Regions from separate parts of the Homo sapiens genome. Here region 2 is reported to be linked to region 1. Evidence: microRNA targets listed by miRTarBase, many of them from high-throughput screens and not tested one by one. Region 1 holds a microRNA gene; the other region holds the end of a gene's coding sequence.
Evidence for each region. Region 1 holds the annotated microRNA hsa-miR-6826-5p (UCAAUAGGAAAGAGGUGGGACCU, at 1,376-1,398, opposite strand). A microRNA usually pairs through its seed, bases 2 to 8, with sites in the 3' UTR of a target mRNA and lowers its output. Matches are read on the target gene's strand: a 7mer-m8 pairs with bases 2 to 8, a 7mer-A1 pairs with bases 2 to 7 and ends in A, and an 8mer does both.

Region 1 (5,072 bases):
GAAGTATTTGTAATGATACTGGAAAATACACTATGGTTTTAAAATAGCAAGGTCTACACTGTAAGAATGATTTCAATTATACCACTTCCCCCCAAAAATAACTCTAAGGATTATGAGTAATGTTTTCCTGTTGTTCATACTTTGTTTTGAATTTTGTTTTTGTATTTCCCAAGTTTTCTTTTTACACATGAACATGTATTTCCATAAGTTTAAAAAGTTATTTTAGGCCGGGCGCGGTGGCTCACGCCTGTAATCCCAACACTTTGGGAGGCCAAGGTAGGTGGATCACCTGAGGTGAGGAGATCGCGACCAGCCTAGCCAACATGGTGAAACCCTATCTCTACCAAAAATACAAAAAATTTGGCAGGCATGGTGGTGGGCGCCTGTAATCCCAGCTACTTGGGAGGCTGAGGCAAGAGAATCGCTTGGACCAGGGAGACAGAGGTTGCAGTGAGCCGAGATCGCGCCACTGCACTCCAGCCTGGGTAACAAAAGAGAAACTTCATCTCAAAAAATAAAAATAAAAAAATAAAATTTTAAAGAGCTAAAAAGCCAAAAACAGCTCCAGTCTCACTGTCAGTTCCTGAAGGGAGTTGCTTTGCAGCCTCAGCACAAAACTGAGCTTCCTGACACCAGGATCTTACCACATACTCATCCTCATAGCCTTCGTCATCAGTCTCCCCAGTGGTGGGATCACAGTCCTTGACAGTGAACTTCATCATGCAGCTGAATGTGCAGGCCACTGTGGGGAAGAGAGGCTGGGTAGTTAGGATGTCCCCAGCCTGCAGGGGATGGGCTCCTCCTGCAGGGGACAAGCAGGCAGGGGTCACAGCCTGCTTTCTAGGCCCCTGCTATGTTATTAGTAGCAGCAACAAGCCATCCAATCCCACAAAGCTGGACAGAGGGTGCCACCTTGTAGGACAGGAAAGTCATGAGTTCTAGTGAGATCCTGTCTCTTTAAAAAAAAAAATTTTTAAAGAAGAGCACTTGGGACTCAGCTATTCTTCTTCTTGGGACTGAAATCAAGGAGCTGAAGCTCTAATAGAAGGCAAACAGCTGGTGCCCAGCCGCCCACCTCCTCCTGACCCCATGAGCTCCCAGGAGGATAGGGTGGTATCTGGAGAGGGGCTCACCAGCTGTGGGGTCTTCTTTGGGCAGTGCCACCAGTGTGTAGCAGGTCCCGGGCTGGTTGTAGGGCAGGCTCCGGGCAGGCACGTAACAGAGCACCTCATAGGCCTCAGTGGGCTCCATCTGCACTGTGACATTCTCCAAGGTCTGGTCATTGAGTGTGTTTGTGCAGTCAAACTGAACAGGAAAGAGAGGGGAGCTTAAACATTGCACTAGGTCCGAGCCATGCTGCAGAGGAAAAGCCAGGAGGTCCCACCTCTTTCCTATTGACCAAGGTGATTCCCATCCCAGTCCCCCTGCCCCAGGTTCCCTGTCTTCATGCTGACAATCGGGAGCCATGGATGTCCCGAGTCAAGAGATATGAGAGACCGACCTGTTGGGGACAGATTCTGTCATCAAGTTGGGCTCCCAACCAATGCAGTGTGGGGACCCATGACCCTACAGGACCTGCCAGACCTGGGACAACTCCCTGGGCGCATGCCCCAGCAGGGCCTCAGCCCACCTTGCTCACCTGAAAAACCATGTGGTTGGTGAAGGTGTGTTTGGTGCAGCGGATGACATACTCCGTCTCTGACTCGGTGAGGGCCACGGGCTCAGGCGAGGACTTGAAGAGGGGCCCAAGACCGCGGAACTCTGGCACTGCTGCCAACTGCTCTGAAATCCACAGGCCACATTCACTCAGCTTCTCGATCCCCAGACCAACTTGTTGATGGTTTCTAATAAATTCCCATGACCATTCTCAAGGTGTTCCACCCTACCTTAGATGGATAGATATGTTTACCCAACTGGCTACTCATTATTTCCTGAATATATCCATGCATTTTCTCATCTCCCTGACTTCGCTCATGTGGCACAACCCCCCACAAATACTCTCCCCATCTCTGTACCATGAAAGACCTCAGAAGCAAAAAACTGATATGAGACCACAAAATCCTAGACCTAATTGGAGAATCCCCCAGCTATAGAAGCTTAGCAAGGATTTCCGCCCCCTACCGCAGCAAGGATTCTTAAAAGAAGGTGACAATTAGGAAAATAAGATCGATACTGCTATAGCTACAAAATCAGACAAAATAACAAACTGGTCCTATATATTTATCAGTTAAGACAAATGGCCAATAAAGAGATATTTCAGAATGAGAGTGTTGCAGAAAACCTAACTTAGAATTGTTTGTGTCTGGTAAGACCTATCCCTACACCCTATGCCCAGGTTCAAGCACTGGATTCAAGCACAGGCCCATGGGACCCCACCCTGGCTGGTCCTGGCATTCCTTGCAAACTAAAGGGAATAACCCAAGTGAATGAGGCATCTGGCAGATGTGTGCACATGGTGTCCACCTATAATGGCTACAGCTGCCACTCTTGTACCTATTCTATGGCAGGATTCCTCGCACTATGACCATGGATCAACTGTATCAGAATTACTAGGGGTTGGCGGCAGAGCTTGCTAAAAACTCAGACTCCATCCCAAATCTACTACATCAGAATCTCTGGTTTCAGGATCAAGGAATTTGCATTTCTAACATGTTTCCTCAGATTATTCCAATATATACTGATATTTAAAGACCACTGCTCTAAGATTTTCAACTTGTCTTCCCAATTAATTGAACTCCATGAGAACAGGGATTGTGCTTTGAGGCCATGGATCTGATATTTTTCCCTTTACTTAGAAGGTACTCAATTCACGTTTCAGACATAGAGAAAGGTAGGCCTTATTTTTATTATTTTGCTTTTTTCCTCCACAAAAAGTCAGCCTATGTGACCACTTCAGCCCTCTGCAGCCTGAAGACTGAATCTAATGAATATGCAGGCAATAAAAAGCCCAGAACAATCCAGGCTAGATATTAGGAGGAACTTTTGGGCCACCATGACCATCAACCACTAGAGTGCTTTTCTATTGATATTTATTTTCTTGGGACTCAGAGTTTTGGGCCTGATACTTACTCCCTGGGGGATTCTGTTGGTAGGGTTTCAGACTCTTCATCAATAAAACTGATATCATTATCTTGATCACAGCGTTGTTGTAAAGACAAATGAGGCAATAAATTCAAGATCTAGGAAAGTTCTTGGAACTGAACATGTATGTGATTAGTAAATGTGAGGCTTTTGGATGATTGTTTAAAAATGGAATTGTTACCCTTTAAGCGGCTTAGGAGACTTCCTTGGAAGGTGTGGCAGAATAATGACTCCAAGATGCCCACATGCTAATTCCCAGAACCTGCAGCTATGTTACCTTGCATGGTAAAAGGGACTTTGTAGATGTGATTAAATTAAGGATCTTGAGCTAGGGGTTATCCTGGATTATCCAGGGGGGGCCAGTGTAATCATAAGGGCCCTTCTAGGGCAGAAGGTCAGAGTAGAGAGATTTGAAAAGGCCAGGAGTGTGGCCTCTTCAAATCACTCTACTCTGACCTTCTGCCCTAGAAGGGCCCTTAAAGACGGTGGAAGGGGCCACGAGCCAAGGATACGGGCCACCTCTAGTAGCTGGAAAAGGCAAGGGGGCAATACCTGGAGCCTCCTGAAAGAACTCAGCACTGCTAACAAATGAAACCCACTTTGGACTTCTGACCGCAGAGCTATAAGGTTATAAATGTGTTAAGCCACTAAGTTTGTGGTAACGTGTTACAGCAGCAATAGAAAACTGATATAAATGGAAAGTTTCATGTTATAGCGATCCCAATTAGCTCAGGATCCATGCTATATTGATATAAGACATGATTCTGAGTGTAATGGGGAAGGGGGGATTTCATTTAATTCAACATTAATTGGGAGCCTACTGTGAGGAAGGAAGGCACTGGGCTCAGTGCTGTGATAGACGCAGAAAATAAAAGACAGAACATGTGAAGAACTATTTAGCACAGAGGGCTGTTTAAGAGAAGACAGAAGAGCTAGGATGGAAGTGAGGGCCCATGAAGGAAGAGGGGTCTATGCTTTTATCTACTGAATTCAGTGGATAAAACAATCTGCAATTAGACACACAGCCTCTCCCCTTAAAAATGCAACACCAGAGGACAGATGGATACCTGAAGAAAACCTTACAAGACAATGTGGACAGAACACACGTGGAACCCGACAAAAAGTACCAGTGTCTTTGAATCCCAGCACTGCTCTCTCAGACATTCTGAACTGGCCTGGGCTCCAGGGACCCGAGCCCTCCAAATTGAGGCCCAGTAACAGCACTGAGCCAGTTTGATCGGGACCTTAATTCCAGCCCCTCCTACTACTTTCTCTCTCTGAACTTCCAATTCCTCAGATATTGAAGGAACCCAACAACCACCACCTGAGGGTCAAATGTGATAGTAGGTCTAAAGCATCTCAAGGGCCTAGCACTCAGGAGAGACCAATATATGACAGTTCTTACTCTTGAACCCCCTGAGGAAACTAAGCCCAGGTCCCAAGCATCCCCCAACCACTGTGACTCACCCTGGAAGATCTCCTGCCTGGTAGCTGCCACTTTCTCAGGCTGTTTGACTGCTGTGATGGGGGTACTTTCTGCAGGAGCAAATTATACACGTGATGACCAACAGCTGGAGTCACGGGGCAGTGTGGTGGTGACCCCAGTGCTATTACTCAGGGATTATAAATACTAACCCTCCTGAGAGTGGGAAGCAGAAGACATGTGAGAGAGCCCACGTCTGTGTGTATGTGTGTCTCTATTTTCTGGAGCCAGAGGTGGAAAAGATCATTTCCTCCTCCCAGCATAACTGCCACCCACCCTAGTTAGGTTAGTGGCTTTGCAGCCAATGCAGACCCTCCAACAGAGGCCTGGCCTTGATGGCCTCTGGGAGGAGTATAAGTGTTACCTGTTCTCTGCTCTGCCATGGGCGCCGTGGCCAGGGGCACAGACTTGAGGTCAAAAGGTTTTTCTGATGGTTCTAGAGTGTACTGCTGCAGAGCCCTCTCCAGACCAGGGATGGACACAGTCAGACCTGGAGGTGAAGAGAGGT
Region 2 (5,072 bases), not on the chromosome of region 1:
ATTCCCCTGCCTCAGCCTCCCAAGTAGCTGGGATTATAGAACCCCACCACCAAGCTCAGCTAATTTTTTTTTTTTTTTTTGAGATGAAGTCTCGCTTTTTCGCGCAGGCTGGAGTGCAGTGGCGTGATCTCGGCTCACTACAATGTCCACCTGCCTGGTTCAAACAATTCTCCTGCTTCAGCCTCCAGAGTAGCTGGGATTACAGGCACACGCCACCATGCCTGCTAATTATTGTATTTTTAGTAGAGATGGGGTTTCGCCATGTTGGCCAGACTGGTCTTGAACTTCTGACCTCAATTGATCAGACTGCCTCAGCCTCTGAAAGTGCTGGGATTACAGGCATGAGCCACCACACCTGGCCTGAGAAATCTGAACCTTTTTGCATTGCCATTGGTAATGTAAAATAGTGAAGCCACTGTGGAAAACAGAATGATGATTGTTAAAAAAATTAAATAAAGCAGGGTGCGGTGGCTCACGCCTGTAATCCCAGCACTTTGGGAGGCCGAGGTGGGCGGATCACCTGAAGTCGGATGTTCGAGACCAGCCTGACCAACATGGAGAAACCCTATCTCTACTAAAAATACAAAATTAGCCAGGCATGGGGGAACATGCCTGTAATCCCAGCTACTCGGGAGACTGAGCTGGGAGAATCGCTTGAACCCAGGAGGCAGAGGTTGTGGTGAGCCGAGATCGCACCATTGCACTCCAGCCTGGGCAATAAGAGTGAAACTGTCTCAAAAAAAAAAAAAAAAAAAAAGAAATACAGAATTGCCATATGATACAGCCATAGACAGTTTCATAAGAAACTCATCAGTTTTTCATACAAAGAACATGTTAAAACTGAAAGTTATGAGCATGATTATGGAAAGATGCCCAATAATTATTATACAAATAATAATGATTATATTCATGATTATATTTTCTTTTTGAGACACAGTCTCACTCTCTTGGCCAGGCAGGCGTGCAATGGCATCATCTTGGCTCACTGCAACCTCCACCTACTGGGTTCAAGTGATTCTCCTGCCTTAGGCCCCCGAGTAGCTGGGATTACAGGAATGCGCCACCACACCTGGCTAATTTTTGTATTTTTAGTAGAGAGGGGGTTTCACTCTTGGCCAGGCTGGTCTCAAACTCCTGGCCTTAGGTGATCTGCCCACCTTGGCCTCCCAAAGTGCTGGGATTACAGGTGTGAGACACCACGCCCAGCCTCAAAAGTTTCAAAGTTTGGCCATTTATAAAACTGCCCGTTAATATCTCATACTTTCTAGTTCTTCATATTCAAGAGCTATAAAACATGAATATATGTAGTATGTTTGAAAATAAAGTGGACATTGGATACAATGTTCTACTGAAACAGTACATGGCTATTTCATGATAATCAGTAAATCAGGAGACAGGGCAGCACATGCAGTGATGCCACAGATACTTTTTATTTTTTGTGGTAGCCACTGAAATGTCTGGAAATGCAAAATCAAAGGGGAGTAGAATGTCCCAGAGAATGTGACTCACATGTTCCCCAAATCTTTGGTGGGTTGACGCTAGGATAAACATCCAGTTAGGCCATCCTCTCCACCTAGAAAAACAAGGTAGGCTTCCATCTTTGGTCATGAGTACAATTCTTCTGTTAGTCACCACTGTTAGCATATACTAGTATATAACTCCCCTATAAATTCACAATGACAAAATCCTTGGGTTCTCACAGTTCTGATTATAAGTCCTATAATTACCTGTTTTAGTTACTTTAATAGGTTTATTAAACCTATTAATAATTCTTTATATTCTTTAAAAATGTATACTTTAAAAAATCTTTATGCATATATAAATTATTAAGGCTAAATTTAATGACATGTCTAGTCATTATAGACAAGGCATTTTACATATATACACACATACACACACGTGTGTTTTCTGTGTGCTACTATCAAGTCTAAATTTTTATGCTTTTGTCTCATTGCCCTGTTCATTTTTTGCTATGAAATTATCAGAAAAATAAGGATTGACAAGAATGGTTCCATTTACTACTGATTGGCAATGGCTGTCCCTCTCTAACAGGCCAGAGGGTCTGTTTAATATATTTAATGTCAAATATTTGAACCCTGAACCATCTTTCTGTTTATGCAGATATGGTTTACAGTTCTAAATCTTTTAAAAAACAATTTTCAGGCTGGGCACGGTGGCTCACGCCTGTAATCCCAGCACTTTGGGAGGCTGAGGCGGATGGATCACGAGGTCAGGAGTTCAAGACCAGCCTGGCCAACACAGTGAAACCCTGTCTCTACTAAAAATACAAAAATTAGCTGCGTGTGGTGGCACGTGCCTGTAGTACCAGCTACTTGGGAGGCTGAGGTAGGAGAATCGTTTGAACCCAGGAGGCAGAGGTTACAGTGAGTTGAGACCATGTCATTGCACTCCAGCCTGGACGATAGAGACTCCATTTCAAAAAATAAATTAATTAATAAATTTCAATTTCTACTGAATTTTATTACAATGACTTCATATACATAGTAAATACTGGTTATAAGTAATCCTTCCCAAGAAGGACCTGCAATAATGCTGTTCAAGTTGCCACTGAGCTTACTCTCCTCGCCAAAAGGATACCGTGGAAGTCACTGTCTTCGCAGATTTCCAATTCTCAAACATCAAAATCTCTCTAGTCACTTATTTGGGATTTTCAGAGACTTACATTTCTTATAGATTATGGTAGAAAAGGCTTATGTTGTAGCCAGGCGTGGTGGGTCACCCTGTAATCCCAGCACTTTGGGAGGCCGAGGCAGGCGGATCATGAAGTCAGGAGTTCGAGACCAGTCTGACCAACGTGGTGAAACCCCGTCTCTACTAAAAATACAAAAATTAGCTGGGCGTGATGGCACATGCCTGTAATCCCAGCTACTCAGAAGGCTGAGGCAGGAGAAGCACTTGAACCCAGGAGGCAGAGGTTGCAGTGAGCCGAGATCGCTCCACTGCATTCCAGCCTGGGCAACAGAGCGAGACTCTGTCTCAAAAAAAAAAAAAAAAAAGAAAAAAAAAAAGACTCTGGTACTCTCAAATTTTCCTCACCTATTTCCCTTCTCAATGTCCCTTTCTCTTGTATGAATTCTAATTCCTTGATATTAAATAAGGTGTAATAAGCTATGGCTAAAGTACCCCTAAAATCATGACAACTACAAGATTTCCCTCCAATACGAATTTGCTTGTTTTGCATTTAAGCATTGAGAGACAGCTAAAGGCCTTCTACATATACTGCATTCACATGTCCATGATTTATTAATAGCCTTCTCACAATTATAAAGCCGCAAGGTTTCTTTTTAGTAGAAATTCTCCAGTCTGAATGACCAAAAAAACCTCATATATACTCTTGGAATGAATAAGTCCAGTCCCAGGTATAAATTCAACAGAAATACATACACGCAAACACACACATGATATAAACAAGAATATTTACAGCAGTATTTTTATTATTACACAAAAGTATAAAAAATACAAATATCCATCAATAGGATAAACAGCAATATATTCTTAAAATGGAATAGTATGCAAAATGAAAATACACTACTGCCACATGCAATAATGTACAGATCTTAAAAAATTGAGTGAAATAAGCAAGACACAAAATAATTCATGATGTCTGATAAAATATATATTTATAAAATTGAAAACATGCAAAAACTACGTTTTGATGTTATAGGCTACGGAAGTGGTAACTCTTAGGTAAGTAACAACTAACTGCTTTTTATTACAGAGTGCAATGAGAAATATAGTTCATAAATATTTTCTCTTATGGAGATTAATACTTATAATCATTGTGTATCTTGTCTCTGCATGTATTATATAAGTATTTTTAAAAAATAAACTATTTGAGTCAGTAGGAAGAGCAGTTGACTTTAAAATTTAGCTTCATAGCTGATAGAGTTCAATAATAATGATCATACTTATTTTATATGCTAGTAAACAGTAGACAGTTATTCCGTATGGTACTTTAATAATTATTAGACTTGTGATTTAAAATTACATTAACATGTTTCAGCATGCTTTTCTTTTTAAAACTAAATGTTTACAACAGCTTGTAAAGAATTCATATAAGAAACCACATCATTTATTGCATTTCAATGTTTTCTCCCTTGTGAGTTCTTTGATGGACAATGAGGTTTCTCTTATAACTGAAAGACTTACCACACTCATTACAAACATAGGGTTTCTCACCTGTGTGAGTTCTCTGATGTACAATAAGATTTGTCTTCTGGCGGAAGCACTTTCCACATTCACTACATTTATATGGTTTCTCTCCCGTATGAGTTCTTTGATGATGAATGAGATATGACTTCCTGCTAAAGGCTTTCCCACACTGAGGACATTCATAGGATTTCTGGCCGGTATGTATTTTCTGATGTACAGTGAGGGTTGCTTTCTGGCGAAAGGACTTCCCACATTCATTACAAACATAGGGTTTCTCCCCTGTATGAATTCTCTGATGTAGATTGAGATTTGTCTTTTGACTGAATGATTTACCACATTCATTACATTCATATGGTTTCTCTCCTGTGTGAGTTCGGTGATGATCAATGAGGTATGACTTCATTCTAAAGGCCTTCCCACAGTGAGGACATTCATAAGATTTCTCCCCTGTATGTGTTCTCTGATGTGCTACAAGGGTTGTCTTCTGGCGGAAGGACTTTCCACATTCACTACAAATATAGGGTTTCTCCTCATTATGAGTTTTCTCATGAAGAGCAAGGGTTGTCTTCTGGGAGAAGGATTTCCCACATTCATTACAAATATAGGGCTTTTCCCCTGTATGAGTTCTCTGATGTACAGTAAGATTTGCCTTCTGGTGAAAGGACTTCCCACATTCTTTACAAATGTAGGGTTTCTCACCTGTATGGATTCTCTGATGTAGAGAGAGTGTTGTCTTCTGGCGGAAGGACTTCCCACAGTCATTACACTCATATGGTTTCTCTCCCGTGTGAGTTCTCTGATGACGAATGAGGTGTGACTTCAATCTGAAGGCATTCCTACATTGCAGACATTCATACGATTTCTCCCCTGTGTGTGTTCTCTGATGATCAGTGAGGGCT

Region 2: the mRNA of ZNF567 is a reported target of hsa-miR-6826-5p. Seed matches in the 3' UTR shown: 8mer at 3,491-3,498.

What each region holds. Positions count from the first base shown.
Region 1 is chr3:129,268,477-129,273,548 of GRCh38, reverse strand. It overlaps MIR6826 (microRNA 6826), which reads right to left and starts at 1,403; the gene lies at 1,306-1,403. COPG1 (coat protein complex I subunit gamma 1) reads right to left here. Exons shown (of 24, transcript NM_016128.4): 17 at 4,929-5,054; 18 at 4,549-4,617; 19 at 1,640-1,782; 20 at 1,134-1,305; 21 at 645-742.
Region 2 is chr19:36,719,690-36,724,761 of GRCh38, reverse strand. ZNF567 (zinc finger protein 567) reads right to left here. Exons shown (of 6, transcript NM_001322917.1): 6 at 3,426-5,072. The coding sequence ends at 4,094. Among named protein-coding and RNA genes, the nearest start is that of ZNF567, 35 kb to the right of the region's middle.